2 separate regions of the Homo sapiens genome follow, and region 2 is linked to region 1. A link means that fine-mapping ties the variant in region 1 to the plasma level of a protein whose gene starts in the linked region. Region 1 holds a variant in brackets. A gene starts in the other region. All regions are shown on their reverse strands.

Region 1 (5,542 bases):
GGCCACTGCATTCCAGCCTGGGTGACACAGCTAAATAAATAAATAAATATTTAAATAAATAAATTTATTTATTTATTTATTTAAATAAATAAATAAAATTGGTATAGAACTATAAAAATCTCCCTGACTTCTGTCTCATCTTCTGAGTTTTCTGAAGGTGGGAATCTTTGAGAATGAAGGTGAAAGTATTTACTTCTCAGAACTAGAGTATCCACTTTTATTTCTGGGTTATTATTCTCGTAATAAAATTAAAGAGTAAAAAAAATACATACGAATTGATAGAAAAAATAAGATCTTAATTGCTAGAAGATAAAATATAACATTGGGATTAATATGTTTTATTGGGGGTTCTCATCATGATTATCCTTCCCCAGACTGGTCTGATCCAGAGTGGAGGCAACGTGGTCATGGCTGGTTTATGCCTGAGTTAATGTGCTAATCAGACTGTGCACTTCCTAGGAGATGTTTAATTGTGACATGTCATGAGTTTTGGAATCTTAAAATTAGCTAAGAGGAAAAAAAAATCTATTGAGAGAAGCCAAAATGAACACCGAAACAAGCAAACCAACAAACCAAACAATAGCCTGCTCCACTCCCCCATGGCAACCTTTTAAATAAGTCACTTCATTGATTGCTTAAGATTAAATCCATTTTCATTTATTTATTTTCAAGAATGGAAAATGTAGTTGCCTGAACTTTATAGAAATTAGTAACAGGTTGTGTTCAACTCTCAGAAATGTAGTTTTCTTTTCTTTTTTTGGAAATATTGGAGCAGTTTAACTCAAAACACCATTTATAGGAGCTCTTGAATTCATGTTTACCTGTTTTGAGTTGCGTTTTTTACATTTTAATAATTAAAGAATATCATGTAATTCCCATAAACATTTTAACTTGAAAAGAGAATGATTTTATGATATCAGATTCAATGTGTCTTAGTTATATATATATATTCAATGTGTCTTAGTTATATATATTATATTTTTCCCTCCAAACTATTCAATTTCAAACTAGTTATTCACATGGTGTCAGGATAAGATTTTAATTTTTATTTTGCTTTTATTCACAAATATTGTTTTAGATCTGCTGCATGATCTTGAAGCTTTTTTTAAACTTTTATTGAAATATCTATGCTCTTGAGCATTCAGATTCTTTCTAGTGAAACACTGGGATTATCTTTCTTTAGTCAATCATTATCCATTAGAAACATTAACTAATTTACCCTCTCAAGAGTCCTAGAAGTTATATCATAACATTTTACAGAGACAGAAATCTGATGTCATGTGAATTTCTTAAGGTCAGAGACTGGAGTCTCTGGACAAATGGATCTAGGATTTTAAGTCAATGTTAGTTTCACAGCTGGCCTGGGCAGCTTTAATTCTGCTGAGAATGAATATATGATCCCTGTTACTTTCAGAAGAGATTTGGTCATTAAATCCTAATTATACAGACTGTAAAATCACTAGCTAGAGTTGCTCAGGCACATGTTATGATAACAATTCAGGGGACATTTTTAGATGAGTGTTATTTTGCTTATTTGTTTTTATTCTTAACATTCTGTTATTTAGACACAATTTTCTTGTTTATTGATGGGTGAAATGGGTTATATTTCTTTGATGAAATTATATTCTTTATCTATTTACAATAGACACTGATTCATAGAGTTTTAGACTTGGAAGGAAACTTTGATATCTTTACTTAACTTTTCATTTTCCGAAATGGAAAAATGAGATTGAGGTGATTTGTTCACTATCACCTACTGAATTAGTGACTTGGTCACTATTTAGTCTATTGTTCTCCTTAGTCCAATATTAGCCACTATAATGAACAGCTGTATGAACACACGCAAGAACATTTTAAACCCCACACTGTATGGACTACTAGCTTTACATTTTAGGTGAAATGATACTTTAAAATGTCTAGCAATTTAAGAAGCTAGCGAAAATGATTGATTTACTCTCAAAATAAAATATATTTTTAGTATTATAGTTGTTTGAGACTTGCCAATAAATTGTGAAGGAATTATGAGCATTTTTATTTAAATTTATTCTGATTTCACAATACTTTTCAGAATTCTAAGGCTCAATATTTAACCTCGTTGTGATATATAGCTAAATGCTAACTGCATAATTCTCCTTTATCAATATCATCCCAAACAGCATAGAATTGGAAGTTAGAATGAATCTCAAAGATAGTCAAATCTTTATTTTTTAATAAATGATATGAATAATATCAATAACAGATTGTGCTCAGTGATAACTGGCTAATACTAGACTTTAGTCTAAGAGCTTTGCACTGATTAATTTATTTAATTCTCTCATCCATAGTATGGAAGGCATGATTTCAAGTTTTTGTTTTGTAGCTGAGAAACTGAGTTAGAGGGGTTCTATAACTTGCTAGTGAGGGACAGAAGCAGGACTCAAGCCCAAAGATCCTGGTTCCAGAACTTGTATTCTTGTTTTATAAAATTTTAATTGACAAATGCCAATTGTATTTATTGTGTACCACATTATATTTTGAAATATGTGTATATTGTGAAATGGCTAAGTCAAGATAATTACCATGTATATTACCTTACATGCTTATCTTTTTTTGTGATAAAAGCAGAAAATCTACTGTCTTAGCAATTTTCAAGAATAAATTGTTATAAACTATAGTCACCATGTTGTACAATAGATCTCTTGAACTTATTCTTCCTGTCTATCTGAAATTTTGTATCCTTTGAATAACAGCTACCCAACCCCCTCCCACCCCCACCAGCACCTGGTAACTACCATTCTACTCTCTACTTCTGTAAATTCGGTTACATTCTTTCTTAGATGACACATATAAGTAACATTATGTGGTATTTGTCTTCCTGTGCCTGGCTTATTTTACTTAACTTGATGTCCTTCAGGTCTCCTTTCATGTTGTCACAAATGGCAGGATTTCCTTCTTTTTTGTAAAGCTGAGTAGTATCCTATTATGTATACATACCATGTTTTCTTTATGCATTTATCTGTTGACCAAATTTGTATTCTGAGCCATTGTGCTCTGTTGTTTCTTTGCAACATTAATATTAGGTTGAATCATATAGATTGGTAGATCAGAAACAGTCAAA[A/T]ATCAGCCATTTTATATGGCTCAACCTAATAGCAACTGTTACCATTTATTGATTATATATGACGTGTCAGACACAGTTCTTGGCCCCTTTTATAATCTCATTTAATCCTTATATTTAATTGAATCCTTGTAACAACAGTAGAATATAGGAATTATTGATTTTTACAGAATTAAGAAGCTTAGATTAGGAACTATTTGCTTTTTACAGAATTGAGAAACTGAGATTCTGAGTGGTTCGGTAACTTTCTGAGTAGTTAGGTTACATAGCTGACTAGTAGAGAAGCCCAGGTTGAGCCCACACCTGTCTGAAACTGAACACCATGCTCTCAATCACTCTGCTTTCCAGGTGAGGTTCTGAAACAGATAGTGTTAGAACCTGCAATTCTCTACTGTTGTCTAAGGTCCTTATACATTTTGCCATGGTGGTGCTGAATATACTGTTTGTGTTTCCCTCTGTTTGCTGTTTGCATGTTAGTGTGCTTTTTGTATCTGTTAAGAAGTATTTGATCAGAAGTAAATTCAAGCATATATGCATTATTCTTATATATGAGGTGGACTTGTATAACTAATACCTACTCTGTTAGTTTGCTAGGGCTGCCATAACAAAGTACCACAGACTGGGTGGTTTAAAGGAAAGAAATTTCTTCATAGTTCTAGAAACTAGAAGTCCAAGATGAAGGTGTCAGCAGGGTTGGTTTCTTCTGAGGGCCTCTCTCCTTGACTTATAGAGGGCTTTCTTCTTCCAATGTCTTTGTATGGCCTTCCTTCTGTGTGTATGTCTTAATTTCTTCTTATAAGGGCACCAGTCATATTGGATTAGGGCCCATCCCAATGACCTCATTTAACCTTAATTACCCCTTTAAAGATTGTGTCCAAATATAGTTACATTGTGAGTTAAATTCAACTTGGTACAAATACCAACTTTGTCAGTCTTCCTCTGGAAGCTAAGCATGCATTTTGAGAAATTAATTTGAAGTTAATGTATTTTTTTTTCTCCTTAATTGTAGAAGCCCAGCTGAGCACTAGCATTCCAGAATGACATGGCAAAAGGGTCCTTCCCAGGCCTTTTTAGGAAGGTATTGTAATGTTCCTCCTTAGAGGTTTGTCGAGCTTTATTCTTAGCCCTACCCTACAACTATTTTAAACATGCTCTTACACAACCCTTTATTCCCTCCATTACCTCAAAGAAGAAAATCAGATAAATTAGCACCTCTGAGGAGTAGCATCAATATTTTATTTTGATTTTTTAGATCTTGGCATCAAGAGTATGAATTCAGGGAACTGACTCCCAGAAAAGGAAGTAGGGAATATTGAGGAACTACTTTACCTTGCACACCACTGAGGCCAATAATAGTAGCAGTCGTCGTAGCCCTAGTCCTAGTCATAGTTGTATATACTTTCTTCTGGGCAATGCTCAGCCTGGAGGGAGAGGAGCCTGTAGAACTGTGGACTGTTCTAGTCCATTTACCCTGTTTGATGGATGAATTTCATATAGTTAAATGCTTTCTTTATGGACTCAGTGCAAAGCTGAATGTGGAATGTAGGTCCTCTAACTCCTGGTCAGTGTTTCTTCATGTCTATCATGCTAAGCATTGTGTTTATCATAAAACTGATTTTAAAATTGCCTAAGTAATTCTGGAGAGAAAAATAATTATAATTTCTTACTGAAAAGGTCATGGGCTTTGGAGCCATATGGATATGAATTTCAATTGTGGTTAAGCATTTCTCTCCCTTTGTGATTTTGATATACTATTCTCTCAGCCTAGGTGTAAACCCTACTCATAAAATAGGGCTTAAGCCCTACTCTTAGTTTAGATGGAAGGACAACATGAGAAAATGCAGGTGAAGTGCTTAGCACTTGGTACATAGGCATTCAGCAAATTGATAACTATTACTATAAATATTAAATAATGGTAATTAGTATTAATGGCATCAATATTATGAATAGAACCAAATGGTAATATTGTATTGTGTATATATATATACACACACACATATATATATAACATATATATGTTAAAAAGAATTCAGAGACATAAAGATGGAAGGGATTTGCTGAGCATACAGATGCTGAGCATATGAGATGACACCTAGGACAGAGATTTACCCTTTGATCTATTATTTCAGTGCTCACAAGGGTGCTTAATAAATGGCTGTTTGATGATGAGGTTGTATGTTTGCTCGTCAGTAGGAACATGTTACCTTCAGTCCTTTGGTTGACCTTTGGCTGCCTCCCTGATCCTCTGGAGAGAGGAAGGCTATTTACTGCTATTTGCTATTGGCAAAAAGTTTGTGGCAATTTGGCTATGATTCTTGGGTGGAATTTTAGTTTGAGGTGGAACATATTTCATTCAACAAAACATTACTTAATACTTTTTATTAATCTTCACTGAATCTTGGAATTTCAACAGATAAATAAGATAAATTACCTATCTCAGATTACTAT
Region 2 (2,601 bases), not on the chromosome of region 1:
TGTTTACATATCTACAAGAGGGGCTGGAACATTCTATTAAGTGCTCAACATTTCACCTTGTCAGTGAGGCTGGCCCTGGCCACCCTAGCCACTGCCCACTGCCTAGTGCCCATCCCAGTCCTGCCAAGTACTTATCCTACTGGATTTTTTCTTCCCTTAATGTTTTTTCATAGCATTTATGACTTTTGAATAGAGTATACTACGGTTCCCACCTTTTGCACTATGGACATTAGGAGTCAGATCATTCTTTGCTATGGGGGATGTCTTAGGCATTGTAGGGCTTTGCGCAGCATCCCTGGCCTCTACCCACTAGATGCCTGGAGCACACACACACACACACACACACACACACACACATTCTGTGACAACCAAAAGTGTCTCCAGACATAGCCAAATGTCCCCTGGTGGGCGTAATTGCCCCCAGCTGGGAACTACTATGCTATACAACTTATGTTTTCAATTATGTTTATTACGTTGAGTATGGAGTCTGTCTCCCCACACTTCTAGAATATTAGCTCCAAGAAGAGAGGAATTTGCTTATTTTACTCTCTGATGTGGCCCCAGTTCCAAGATCAATGCCTGGCATATGGCAGGTGCTCAATGTTTGTTGAAAGAATGCATGAACACTGAGTGTTTTTGATATGCCTGAAATGGTGCTAGGTAGACATGTATAACCTCATTGTCTTTATTTTTTTATTTTTTCAATTTTTGTTTTCATATATATATATATATATATATTTTTTTTTTTTTTTCAGAAATGAGGGTCTTGTTATATTGCCCAGGCTGGTCTGGTCTGGAACTCCTGGGCTCAGTGATCCTTCCATGTCGGCCTCCCAAAGTGCTGGGATTACAGGTGTGAGCCAGCAAGACTGTCTTGTTTCTTTATCATAGCATCTTTGTGAGAGAGGCCCATCGCTATCTCCTTTACAGTGGGGAAAACTAAGGCTTCTAGAAGCTACCTAGAACCCATACAGTGGTAGAGTCCTGCAGCTCCGCCGGCTACCTCCCTAACAAAACTGTTTGTTCCCTTCTGGTACAGAGGGACTGGATCAAGGTCAGGTTCAAACCCAGCCTCTGCAGGCACCTGCAGGGGAGTTGAGAAGGGACCTGAACTGGCCTGGGGGGCTATGCCTGAGGGGGCTTTCTCAGGAGCCAGCAGGGGTTACAATTTGGTCGGGTTCAGTGTGTCCCTCGCGGGATAAAACCCAGCCCCAGGCCCATAAGAGATGGTGACTAAGCTCCAAAGAGAAGCCTCCAGCCCCAGGCCCATAAGAGATGGTGACTAAGCTCCAAAGAGAAGCCTCCAGCACCAGCCTGGGGATGGAGCTGCAGTGGCCAGAACCAGGAGGCTGGAACCGCCCGGCCTCACTCCAGCCCAGCCCAGCCCAGCCTTGAAAGGGCCCAATCCTGTGATTGGTCCATGGGTTCCCGTTGCCAGGAATTAAGGCCAAGAAAATGGGAAGGAAGGAAGGGAGTGCGTAGGTCCAGTGAGAACAGGCGTGAAATTTATATCTCTGCCCAGGACTGGGTGCCTGCATCGCCATGGACACCACCAGGTACAGCAAGTGGGGCGGCAGCTCCGAGGAGGTCCCCGGAGGTATGAGCAAGGAGACTGCCCCATCCCTGCCCCAGTGTCTGGGGTTTGATGGGGGAGGGGAGGGAAGAGTCGAGACAGGCCAGGGTTGTGGGTGCAGGAGAGACACCACAGGCCATAGAGCCAGTTGGACCAGGGTCCAATTCCAACTCTGCCGCTTAGAAGCTGTGTGACCATAGGCAAGTTACTTAACTTCTCTGAATCTCAGTTTCCTGGGAGTAACTCAGGCCTCCAGGGCTCAGTTCTGGGGGACCCAGCATGCCGTCCTTGTTATGCCAGGGCCCTGGGGACGCTGGGTGCACTGGAGCAGGAGACCCCTCTTCTTGGCCCTGGCTGTCCTGGTCACCACAGTCCTTTGGGCTGTGATTCTGAGTATCCTATTGTCCAAGGGTGAGTGACTCTCAATGGGGAGGTGTTGCATCCGGCCCCCCTGGGGACAGAAAACCCCCACTGCATGGCGCACCAGCTGCATCCTGGGGTCCTGTTCGCGTCTGAGTGTGAGCAGAGTGTGTGTACATCTTTGGGCCGTGTGCACTCACGCGTGTGCACATGGCGTGCTCGTATGTGCGCGAGTCCCCGCGCGTTTGTCTCCCATCGGCGTGTGTGCACATCGTGTGAGCTGTATGCCTGCCCGCCCGCTCCGTGCTCCCGAGTTGGGGGACGCTGCACCCCCCGGGCGAGGGGAGGATTCCCGAGTTCCCGGCCTCGCCTGCAGGAGCCTCTCTCCTCAGCCTCCACGGAGCGCGCGGCGCTGCTTGACGGCCACGACCTGCTGAGGACAAACGGTGTGTGCAGAGCCGGGCGCCTGGGCCCCCGGGGCGTGAGGGGCGGGAGTTTCTGAGACCCCGGAGATGGAGTCTCGAGTGCGTGGGGGCCCTATGGTCCCTGAGGCTGGAAGGGGGTCCCCTGAGTCCTCCCAAGTGACCCGAGGGGCATGCATTTTGGGGCGGGGGTCGTTCCAGCCTCGAAGCAGACGGCGGCGCTGGGTGCCCTGAAGGAGGAGGTCG

Alleles and levels. Alleles are on the strand shown, and positions count from the first base shown. The strength of an association depends on the size of the effect and on how common the allele is.
As copies of A replace T in region 1, the plasma level of the protein whose gene starts at base 1,535 in region 2 goes down (weak association).

Evidence for each region. PIP is the posterior inclusion probability: the model's chance that the variant is causal. Protein levels are from antibody-based Olink assays in UK Biobank. Linkage for the fine-mapping came from a reference panel and not from the study's own genotypes, which makes the PIPs less certain.
Region 2: CLEC4G starts here. The variant in region 1 is fine-mapped to the plasma level of the CLEC4G protein (UK Biobank, PIP 0.99).

What each region holds. Positions count from the first base shown.
Region 1 is chr11:89,480,813-89,486,354 of GRCh38, reverse strand. The region is part of intron 2 of NOX4 (NADPH oxidase 4); the gene reads left to right. Among named protein-coding and RNA genes, the nearest start is that of NOX4, 7.8 kb to the left of the region's middle. The variant A/T (reference allele first, on the strand shown) is at 3,098.
Region 2 is chr19:7,731,044-7,733,644 of GRCh38, reverse strand. CLEC4G (C-type lectin domain family 4 member G) reads left to right here and starts at 1,535. Exons shown (of 9, transcript NM_198492.4): 1 at 1,535-1,597; 2 at 1,874-1,984; 3 at 2,326-2,379; 4 at 2,557-2,601. The coding sequence starts at 1,543. RefSeq lists a cis regulatory region at 1,461-1,470 and promoters at 1,277-1,540, 1,228-1,540, 934-1,540.